Homo sapiens: one gene and its partners. The protein of the gene in region 3 interacts with the protein of the main gene of each other region in a pairwise test. Each region holds a gene or a part of one and is shown on either strand. Other genes may lie near its edges. The genes, in order: MS4A7, PECR and HMGCL.

The links.
Region 1: the proteins of HMGCL (region 3) and MS4A7 interact in a two-hybrid assay, tested with the Homo sapiens proteins (one large-scale study listed by BioGRID and IntAct).
Region 2: the proteins of HMGCL (region 3) and PECR come close enough for resonance energy transfer, tested with the Homo sapiens proteins (one large-scale study listed by BioGRID).

The regions. Positions count from the first base shown.
Region 1 is NC_000011.10:60,381,500-60,385,153, reverse strand, and holds part of MS4A7 (membrane-spanning 4-domains subfamily A member 7), read right to left. Parts: intron 2,026-3,654; 5' UTR 2,013-2,025; coding exon 1,866-2,012; intron 67-1,865; coding exon 1-66. UniProt on the Homo sapiens protein: May be involved in signal transduction as a component of a multimeric receptor complex.
Region 2 is NC_000002.12:216,068,212-216,071,865, forward strand, and holds part of PECR (peroxisomal trans-2-enoyl-CoA reductase), read right to left. Parts: intron 1-3,654. UniProt on the Homo sapiens protein: Participates in chain elongation of fatty acids. Catalyzes the reduction of trans-2-enoyl-CoAs of varying chain lengths from 6:1 to 16:1, having maximum activity with 10:1 CoA. Has no 2,4-dienoyl-CoA reductase activity.
Region 3 is NC_000001.11:23,818,884-23,822,537, forward strand, and holds part of HMGCL (hydroxymethylglutaryl-CoA lyase, mitochondrial isoform 1 precursor), read right to left. Parts: intron 1,711-3,654; coding exon 1,627-1,710; intron 1-1,626. UniProt on the Homo sapiens protein: Mitochondrial 3-hydroxy-3-methylglutaryl-CoA lyase that catalyzes a cation-dependent cleavage of (S)-3-hydroxy-3-methylglutaryl-CoA into acetyl-CoA and acetoacetate, a key step in ketogenesis. Terminal step in leucine catabolism.

The DNA of each region.
Region 1 (3,654 bases), on a different chromosome or scaffold from region 3:
GTAGGGAGCAAAAACCAAGATGGCCCCCAGACTTGAAATCAACAGGCAACACAGGATCTGGACAGTCTACAAGAGAGAAGACAGGAAATCTAGACTGCACTTCAAACAGATAAAAGTGATTATTTGAATGCACACGGTAAAGTATAAAGAGTATAAAATACATTATAATTTGTTATATTAAAGAGGAAAAATGTTACAAGGAGCCAATCGATATGCTTCTAGAGAAAGTCATGTATAGCTAACCTCTTCTTTTCTGATAGGATTATTAAACCAGCAAATCGGAAAGTGATCATACACACATTTTAACTTTTTTTGAAAAAGATACTTGACAGTTTTTAAATTTATTTTCTTGAAAAGTAGATAAAAAAGTTGTCCAGTGAGGTGGAAATAGAGAGCAAACTTTTCACAGGAGTGTTAATGAAGAGATTTTTCAGTTGAAATTAGATAGAGCAGGTCATCTCTTCTGCTGTAATTCATCTTATTTTGTTCATCATTGGATTTTAATAATAATTATTTCGCAAGTGGAAGAACTGAAGTTTAGCTGTTAGCTTGCTCTAAAGCCCATGCTTTTGCTCATAGTTTAATGCATGTGCAATTGAAAGATGATGCAAACATAGGAGAAATAAAAAAAGAAGTCAACCATTCACATCATCAACAGTTATTGAATACCACAACAGGTATGTTGTGTGCCAGGCACGAGGGAATGAAGCAAATGAAAATCACTACCATTGGAGAGCTTATATGTGTACTATGTCTTGTCTGTAAAGGTACAGACAAGTTCCATGCAAGGCAGAATAGAGTTAAGAGCAAAGTAGTAGGACATGAGGCTTGTGAAGTACTGGAGGCATGGTACAAACTATGTAGGGATTTTTAGGCTATGTTTTACCAACTTTGCTTTTCATTTTGAGCAAAAAAGGAATCCCACTGGATAATTTTGAGCCAGGAGAATACATGATCTAACTTTCATTTTTAAAAGAGTACCCTACCTGCTGTACTAAGAATAGATTGTAAAGAAACAGGGCAGGGAGATCCATCTAAATAGGCAGTGAATAGGACCTGGGTATTATAAGAGGGTATTCAAAACCACATGGAGATTAAAGTTCTGGATATGAGGGATGATGATCTGGGACACTTGGATGTCTTATAGTTACTCATATGAACGGGGAAAAATGGGTCATGAGATTAGTCTTGATCGTCTCATCTCAAAATATTTGAAAAATAAGCTCAAAGTTAATTTAATCATATTGAGTAAAATCCATATGGTTAAATAGAAAATTTTTACTGTACTAATGACAAAATAAGAAAGACTAATTTGTGGCTGGGCACAGTGGCTCATGCCTGTAATCCCAGCACTTTGGGAGGCCAAGGCGGGCAGATCACAAGGTCAGGAGTTCAAGACCAGCCTGGCCAGTATGGTGAAACCCCATCTCTACTAAGAATACAAAAATTAGCCGGGCGTGGTGGCGTGCACCCATAGTCCCAGCTACTCGGGAGGCTGAGGCAGAAGAATCACTTGAACCCAGGAGGCGGAGGTTGCAGTGAGCTGAGATCGTGCCACTGCACTCCATGCTGGGTGACAGAGGGAGATTCTGTCTCAAAATAAATAAATATATAAATAAATAAAATAAGAAAGACTAACCTGTTAATTGTGAAGCATGCTAGTGAAAAAGATCTAGTGGTTTTAGTTTCTAGAAACTGCTGCAGAGCTTTAAGAGTCTTCCCTTAAAGCTCCATTTCATGTCCTCATTAGCCTGGAGTCAGCCAGAAAAGAGTGAAAGAGTTTCCCAGACCCACTGTAGATCTGTAGTCTAGATACATTTACAAAGTATTTTCTCAGTATTCCCCTTATAATGAGGTGGACTTACCCCAAGAACGGTGGTTTCTGTTGGCAGCCCGTTCTGCAGGTAATCTTCGTTTTGGTACATGTGTCCAGGTTTCTCTCTTTGAGGGATAGTGATGCCCTTTGGTGTAAAGCTGTGAGAAACCCCCATGGTTTGGGATTGTAATAGCATGATGCTGATGATGCTGGAAGAGGCATCAAAACTCAGTTACTTCCCAAGGTTTGACTTACAGACATAAACTTCCCAGGGACCATACTTTGTAGGAACTTAAGAAGGTATTTGCCATTATTCCAAGGCTGGTTGTCCTTCAGAAACAAAACATGGGGATCAGTGGAGCATTGGAAAGTGGGCATGCTGGGCACAGTTCATCCATTGTGGTCAAGAAGCATGTCACTGGGAGAGTACTGTACACATTTTGAGGGGTCCCACAATTGAGAGGTGAGCAAATCACATAGAACTTGCTTTGTAGCCCTGAATGTGTCCATCTCCCTCTCCCTCCAGTGACCTCTGCTTCCAGCTTCCCTTCCCTATCTCCTGTATCTCTGCTTCACTTGTGCTACCTTCTCACACCACATCTTCCAGGATTACACTTTTATGCTACACCTGCACTGATCAGTCTTCTACTCCAGTCTTCATTTTGTCTTCGTAAAAATGTTGAGGATGAATGCTGTTCCACTTTCCTTTCCTATAGCGAGATGGCCTGTCCCATCCGGAATCTTCCTCCTTGCTTATATTGGCTTCGTAATTAGTAATGTAAACATTTACTTAACTCCTGCTGAATTCCAAGCATTAGACCATTGCAGCTCTAATCCTTATAACAACCCTGTAACTTACATGTTATTAAATCAATTTTATACATTAGAAACCTGGGGCTAATAAGCTCAAGTGACTTTTATTGAATGAAATAGTCACATAAAGTACTTAGCCTGGCACTTAGAATGTGTTCAATATATGGTAGCAAATATTAACAGCCTGTGTTTACATGACTGGATTGAGACTTGTCTGGCTCAGACGCTTGTGATATTTTTTTCTCTATGCCATGTTAATTCTCCTCCTCTTCCTCTTCCTTCCTTTCTTCCTTCCTAACATTTCCAGTTCCCTTGTAGATTCCAGGAGCAAGTTGTCTGCCACCACTAACTCAGCAGCATTGCTGGGCCTCTGTGGTGTCAGCAACAAGGCTCAGCACCTGAAATGTTGCCCAGATTTGTTTTCAGCTCAACATTCTCCCTACTGAAGGCCAGAGTTTAGTTAAAGGCTTGTCATCCTTGAAAGGTGCCACAGCTCTGCTGCCTGACATTTTGCCTCAATGTGTTGGTGCTTTAGGAATGGTTCTGGCCTCTCTTGGGTGGAGTGAAGAACATGTAAAAATTGGAAATGACACCTAGAATCTCTTCCTAGTGAGGGAGATGGAAAAGTGCACTGGGATGGGAGTCCAATGCCTAGGCATCTAGTTGCACATCTGACCATATGTCTTGGAGTCCAGTCGTGTGTTCAGATCCCATATCCACCAGTTACTGCTAAACTCACCCTGGGCAAGGTATTTTCACCACTTCATAGGTTTGTGGTACAGGTTGGATAAGATGACACATATAATGGACTCAGCATAGGGGGAGGCATGTGATAAACTCCCAAAACATATCAGTTTTATCTAATATTCATTGGAAGCCCAGTTCTGATATTGATGAGCTGGCCGTAGGCAGGATACTTTCCCTCATTCATCCCCAGTTTCCTTATCTGTAAAATAAGGATAATGACACTATCCTGAAGGACTCTTGTGAGGATTTGAATGACACACGTGAGTGTCTTTTGTTGT
Region 2 (3,654 bases), on a different chromosome or scaffold from region 3:
CAAGACTCCATATCAAAAAAAAAAAAAAAAAAAAAAACCGGAACCAGAAATGACACTGATGATATAATTAAATAGACCAGTGATGAAGAGAAAAATCTTAAAAGCAGCCAGAGAAAAACAACACATTAAGTATACAACAAGAAAGATAAAGACTTCTTTCAGAAACAATGCAAGCCAGAAGACACTGAAACATCTTTACGGTATGGAAAGCAATGAAAAAGATGGTGAACCTAGAAATCTTAACCCAGTGAAAATATCTCTCAAAAATGATGGCAAAATAAAGACTTTTTCACACATATGAAAGCTGGAAGAATTCATCAAGGTGATCTGCACTACAAAAAAGATGAAAGGAAGTCCTTCAAGTAGAAGGAAAATGATGCCAGATAAAAATCTAAAAATATACAGAAGAAGAAAGAGAACTAAAAATGGTTCGTGTGTTTGTTTTTGAGACAGGGTCTTACTCTGTTGCCTAGGCTGGTGTGCAGTGGCGATCTTGGCACACTGCAGCCTTGACCTTCCAGGATCCACTGATCCTCCCACCCCAGCCTCCCGAGTAGCTGGGACCACAGACATACACCACCATATCTGGCCAATTTTTTTTTTTTTTTTTTTTTTTTTTTAGTAGAGATGAGGTCTATGTTGCAGAAATAGTAATTATGTGAGTAAATATAAAGACTTTTCTTGTTTCTATTCAGATCTCTTTAAAGGTATAGTTCAAAGCAAAAATAATAACAACATATTGTAAGATTTATAACATATGTAGAAATAAAATGATTCCCTCCTTCTCCTTGAGAATAATAGCACAATGGCTAAGAAGGGGAAATGGAAGTAGAGACGGTCCTTCTTTTGCTCTGCTCCAATATGCTCTGATTTCAGTTAGCTTAGCTTAAAGACACCAGTCTCTCAACAACATGGTTCAAATTTCAACAACCATGGTATATTAACTGTAACTGCATAAAATGCAAACTTTACTGCTAGCTTTTCAACCCACAAATCATAAATAACAGATGCACATCAAGATCAGTGATTAATCATGTCATTTCTTCCAGCGTCTATCAGTGAATGCCCACTGTGCATCTCTTCTTCAGTTCAGAAGAGCTCAGACAGCAAATAATATAGCTGTGTCACCTCCTGGTCTTTCAACAAGAAACCCAAGTGACATTTTATAAAAACACATGATCTAAGGGGGGACTGGCCAACAAACATGAAAAGTGAGACCAAGAAATGAAAATTTGTAACACTGGAAGCGAAATTAGAATGCATGTCAGGGGAATTATAAAAGGGGAATGCGTGACACTGCTGCCAGTCTAGAAACTACAGAAAGCCAAAAGATCTTACTGAAGGCAAACTTAACATCATGAGGAAAGTGCCTGTGACAAAGAAGATGAAGATATCCCAGAGGAAGTGATGCCCACAAAAAACTTCAGATTAAAGACACTTTTGGGGCCAGGCATGGTGGCTCACTTCTGTAATCCCAGCACTTTGGGAGGTCGAGGTGGGCGGATCACAAGGTCAGCAGTTCGAGACCAGCTTGACCAACATGGCAAAACCCCTTTTCTACTAAAAATACAAAAATTAGCCAGGTGTGGTGGTGGGCGCCTGTAATCCCAGCTACTCCGGAGGCTGAGGCAGGAAAATTGCTTGAACCCAGGAGGCAGAGGTTGTAGTGAGCTGAGATCGTGCCATTGCACCCCAGCCTGGGTGACAAGAGCAAGACTCTGTCAAAAAAAAAAAAAAAAAAGAAACTTTTGGAAATATTTCATGACATTGAAAGTATAAAGGATAAAATGTTGGAAGCTGATCGAAACATAGAAAGGAGTACAATAATTTAACAAGGTACAGAAAAAAATGCTTGCTCTATATCATAAGGTATACAATGAGAAGGCAAGCACTAATCGAATGACTCGACACACTTCACATGAAAATAAAACAGTTTAATTTTCAATACTGAGGTTTTTAAATTTTTATTTTTAACTGACAAATAACTATACATCTATGGGGTAAAATGTGATATTTTGATATATAAATATATTGTGGAATGATGAAATCAGGCTAATGTATCTATCACCTCTTATCATTTCTTTGAGCTAAGAACCACTTTGAGCTAAATCCACTATTCTCGGAATTTTGAAATACACAATGCATTACTAACTATAGCCATCATGCTGTGCAATAGATCATCAGAACTTATTCCTCCTGTCTAAATGAAACTTTGTACTCTTTGACCAACATCTCCCCAGTGAAACTGGTCTACTTTTATTATTTTTTTCATGTCCCTCTGTGGCAGACTGCCATGGTTACTACTTGAGACCGTCACTACGACAGTTACTACTGTTACTACTTACTATTTGAGACGGTCATTACGACACTGAACGAAGGAGGATGAACGCAGAAATGAAAACTTAAAACAAAAGAAACTGTTTTAAAGGAAGGGGCCAGGGGAAGAAGAAGAGGGTTCCCTGCTTCTACTGAGTAAAGGCAGCAACCTTGAGCTCCTACGGCCTTTTGTATTTATTGGGTAGAAAGAGCAGGGAGGAGCAGGTAACATTTGGTCAGCTGCTTAACTGATCACAGGTTCACATTATTGCTAACAGGCTTCAGATGTGCCTCATCACAAGAAACACTTGCGCCTGGGTCGTGACTGCCCTCAGCATTCCTTCAAGGGTGGCAGACGCAGTTTGTCATTTGCCAACATTCTGCATTTATGAGAACAGTTTGCTGTTTGCTCATATACCCTCCAGCGGTATACTGAGTTGATCACGACCCTCACTCTTTCAGCCTGCAACATCTCTCCCTTTTTGTTTTTGAATTAATTGAGACAGGTAATTGCAAAATGTGCAGCCTTGGTGGTTCATTCCGTCTTCGCATTCAGCTCATACTGGGGGAACCGGGCCCATGGTTGGGATCCATGGGTCGCTCTAGTCTCCCGTTCTGTGGTCGCACACACCTTGAGGGCACCCACACAGTTTGTTCATCTCCTGCAAAAACGCAAGCGTACCCTTATCCCCACGTCAGTAAATCTACCAAAACAGAAGCAAAGGCTTTTGTGGCTGTGGCCAGGAGGCATGCCGTTGCCAAAGCATCTGCTCCACAAGCTGTAACTCAGCTTCTGCCTCTTTGGTTAATTACCACGGGGTAAACTTCTCATTGATAAGGAGAGGCAGGCTCTCTCTGATTAACAGAAGGCACATGGAAAGCAAATTGAAGCTCATCCTTCTCGTGCAACAGTATAGCAAAGAAAAAAAATCATTAAGCCTTCAATTTGTACTGTACAGGTGAGTCCATTAAATGTTATGGGTTGTGATAGATAAATCTCTCTCCTAGTTGTACTTTCAAATCCTTGATTCCCTCGCTTCTCCCTTCGTGGAGAAGGGTGCAACTTACAGGGAACAAGCAATAGTTGTGCAATATATTCTCCTGGTTCAAAAACCCAAAGTTCTTGTGACATTACCACTACTGGAATTTCCTCTTCACAATCAAAATCAACAACTCCTGGGGCTACAGTAACGCCCTGCAAGTTAAGATGACTTTTGCCCAAAACTCTCTATTTGTCTCTATTTAACTCTACCTCTATTTCTATTTATCCCTACTTATCTCTATTTGTCCCTGCAGGCCTCTTTAGGTCCCTTCAGGTCTCTGTTTGTCCCTGAAAGT
Region 3 (3,654 bases):
TTGTGCTAGGTGCCGGGGATATAGCAGTAAGCAGAAGCAGAACAGACAGGATTCTGCCCTTCGGGAACTTACACACTATTGTTTCCAACAAGCACTCACTATTAAAGCTAGGATGGACGTGCTAAAAAAAAAAAAAAAAAAAAAAAAAAAGAGAAAAAGAAAAAAGCTTTTCTTATTGAAAAAATAATCAATATATGATTCTTTCAGAAAAACATGCCAAAAACAAAAGAAAACCACCCTTAGAATCTCCCAGTGATAACGCTATTAACACCCTGGTGTGTAACTTTCTAGATCTGTGCAGCCCAATATGTCACTAGTCACATGTGGTTATTTAAATTTAATAAAAATTGTATAAAAATAAAAATACAATTCCTTGGCCACACTAGTCACATCTCAAGTTCTCAAGGGCCACATGGGTATAGTGGCCACCACATGGAAAAGCTCAGGTCCAGAATATTTCCATCTTCACAGAAAGTGCTGGTCTAGGTCCTAGTCTAGATAAATGCTCCCATACATATATAAACTTTTTTCTTACATAAAAGTGTTAAGATTAAAAAATACATGGCCAGGCGCATTGGCTCATGCCTGTAATCCCAGCACTTTGGGAGGCTGAGGCAGGTGGATCACCTGAGGTCGGGAGTTCAAGACCAGCCCGGCCAACCTGGTGAAACCCCATCTCTACTAAAAATACAAAAATTAGCTGGGCATGGTGGCAGGGGCCTGTAATCCTAGCTATTCGGGAGGCTGAGGCAGGAGAATCACTTGAACCCGGGAGGAGGAGGTTGAGGTGAGCCGAGATTGCGCCATTGCACTCCAGCCTGGGTGACAGAGTGAGATGCCATCTCCCAAAAACACACACACACACACGCGCGCGTGCGTACGCGCACATGCACTATTTGTTTTTGTTTGGAGACAGAATCGTGCTCTGCCTCAGCCTCCTGAAGTGCTGGGATTACAGGCATGAGCCACCACCATGCCCAGTCACATGTACTATTTTATAAACTGCTTGAGTCACTTTATATATACCTATGTTATTAATGGCTTCATAATATTTCATTTTATAAAAAGTCCATAGTGTATCTGACCCAACTTTCCTCATACTAAATATTTAAGTTGTTTCCAACTGTTCTGTGCTTACCAAACAGGTTTGTAAGGAACACCCCCAAGGCTAAATCTCTACATTTGGCCTTCGTGACTTGCTTTGGATAAATCCCCTTACATGGAATTGCTGGGTCTACCCCACCCCACTGGGCTGTGGACCTGGGGACACCAAACCTGTTGCACCACCATTCAGTTTATATATATACATATATTTTTTAATAAGATAGAGTCTTGCTATATTGCCCAGACTGGTCTCAAACTCCTGGGCTCAAGCCATCCTCCCACCTCAGCCTCCCAAGTAATTAGGGATGACAGGCATGAGCCACCCATCCAGCTTGCCCCACCATTTTAGATCATTTAACTGTCACAGGTGTCTGTCCCTGTTTGGCCTCCTCTACTCTCCCCTAACTTGTGCAGAGGAATCACATCTTGCATAGCTCTGTCAACTGCCATTGCACCTATCACACGTAATACTCAAAGCAGATGCTTGAAAAAACTGTTTTTTTGGCTCATTTCCAACTTTACCTTTTCATTTTGTAGTCCATCTCGGGGACCAACTTCCACAATTTTCACCCGCTTTGGTAAAGTGCCCATAGATGAGGTGCTGACCTTTGGTTTAAAAGAGGAAACAAAAAGTATGAGGAAGAGATTGCCACAATTCCCAGGGAGACCAATATGAAAGAATGGATCTATCTTCACTAATAATGAGACAAGAAGAAATATTTCTCACCATTTAATTCACATTTGGTCTATTTTAGAATTAAGAACAAAAAGAATATTTCACTTAGTAACAGGAACAAGCAAGAGATTCATCCTTCCAGTACCGGTTCTCCCCTGAAGTCCAGACTCCTTTTCCACTGCCTACCTGACAGCTCTATTCGCATCTCTTCATATAGCAGTCCCGAAACAGAACTCTAATTTCTCCTAAAGCCCATCTGACTCCATCCTTTCCATCTCTGTCAAAGGCATCGCATGTACCCTACTGCATAAGCCAGAACTTCATTGAGCCATTTCACCTATTCACCATGGCCTATAGGACTCTGTATGCTGCTGTATGTATGTTAGAAGTAGTTTAAAAAGGCCAGGTATTGCGGGGGGCAGTGGCTCATGCCTGTAATCCCAGTACTTTGGGAGGCCGAAGCGGGCGATCACTTGAGGTCGGGAGTTTGAGACCAGCCTGACCAACATGGTGAAACCCCATCTCTACTAAAAATACACAAAAAATAGCCGGGTGTGGTGGTGCACGCCTGTAACTCCAGCTACTCAAGAGGCTGAGGCAGGAGAATTGCTTGAACCAGGGAGGTGGAAGTTGCAATGAGCCAAGATCGTGCCACTGTACTCCACCTTGGGCGACAGAGGAAGACTCCATTTCCAAAAAAAATAAAAAAAGGCCAGGCACGGTGGCTCATGCCTGTAATCCCAGCACTTTGGGAGGCCAAGGCAGGCAGATCACTTGAGGCCAGAGGTTCGAGATCAGCCTGGCCAACATGATGAAGAAACCCCGTCTCTACTAAAAATAGAAAAATTAGCCAGGTGTGGTGGAATGGACATGTAGTCCCAGCTACTCAAGAGGCTGAGGTGGGAGAATCGCTTGAGCCCAGAAGGTTGAGCCTGCAGTGAGCTATGACTGTGCCACTACACTCCAGCCTGGGCAACAGAGCGAGACCCTGTCTCAAAAAAAAAAATTAAATGACTCTATATGTCACTTGATGCTTTCCAATTAAGAAAAGAAAAGACTGTATGAGTTGCCTCCTCTGACCTCCTGGAATCATCACTCGCCCCTACTGTCCACTCCCAACCTCCACCCAACAGGTTGCTAAGCTCCCTGCCTTCTCTTCCCTCTGCCCCAGGGTTCCTCATCTGGCTTTTTTTAAAAAAACTGGCTGTTCTTACATCTCTCTCTCATCTTTCAGTTGCAGAGAGGCTTCCTCTGACCACCCTTTGCAAAGCTGCCATTCCTCCCACCCCCATTATTTTCGCTATTGCAGAGCTATAATTATTTCCTTCAAAGCACGATAAAGAATGCCTACTCAATGTCTCTTCCAGTAGAACATAAGCTCTTTGAGGGACCTTGTCTGTCTCAACTCCACTTCATCCCTAGTGTTTGGCACCGTGTTTGGTACAAAGTAGCCACTCTTTAAAGTTATTAAAATAACACATAAACCATGAAGGACACAGCTGTCCCAGAAGAGAGCAATTACTGAGTGTGGGGAGGAGTAGTCAGTCCTGGACTTTTCGGGGTATGGGCGAGATGCAGGAGGGCTCTCTTCTGTTACAGTCATAGGCTGGGTGATGACAAGCATGGGTCTAAGGGGAGGTGACACCCCCAGTAGCTGAAGACAGTTTTTACAAAATGCCCTGAGTCTCCTCTATATAAAGTCAGCTCAAAATCTTAGTCTTCCCTATCAAGTAACACAATACTTTTTTTTTCCTCTTTCCTCTACCTGTCTTGATACTGTAACTTTTCAAATCAACTTTGTTTTACAGATTTAATCTGGATAAATATACTACAACGAGGCAAAGCGGAAGGCACACTGTGTGATCCGCTAAGGA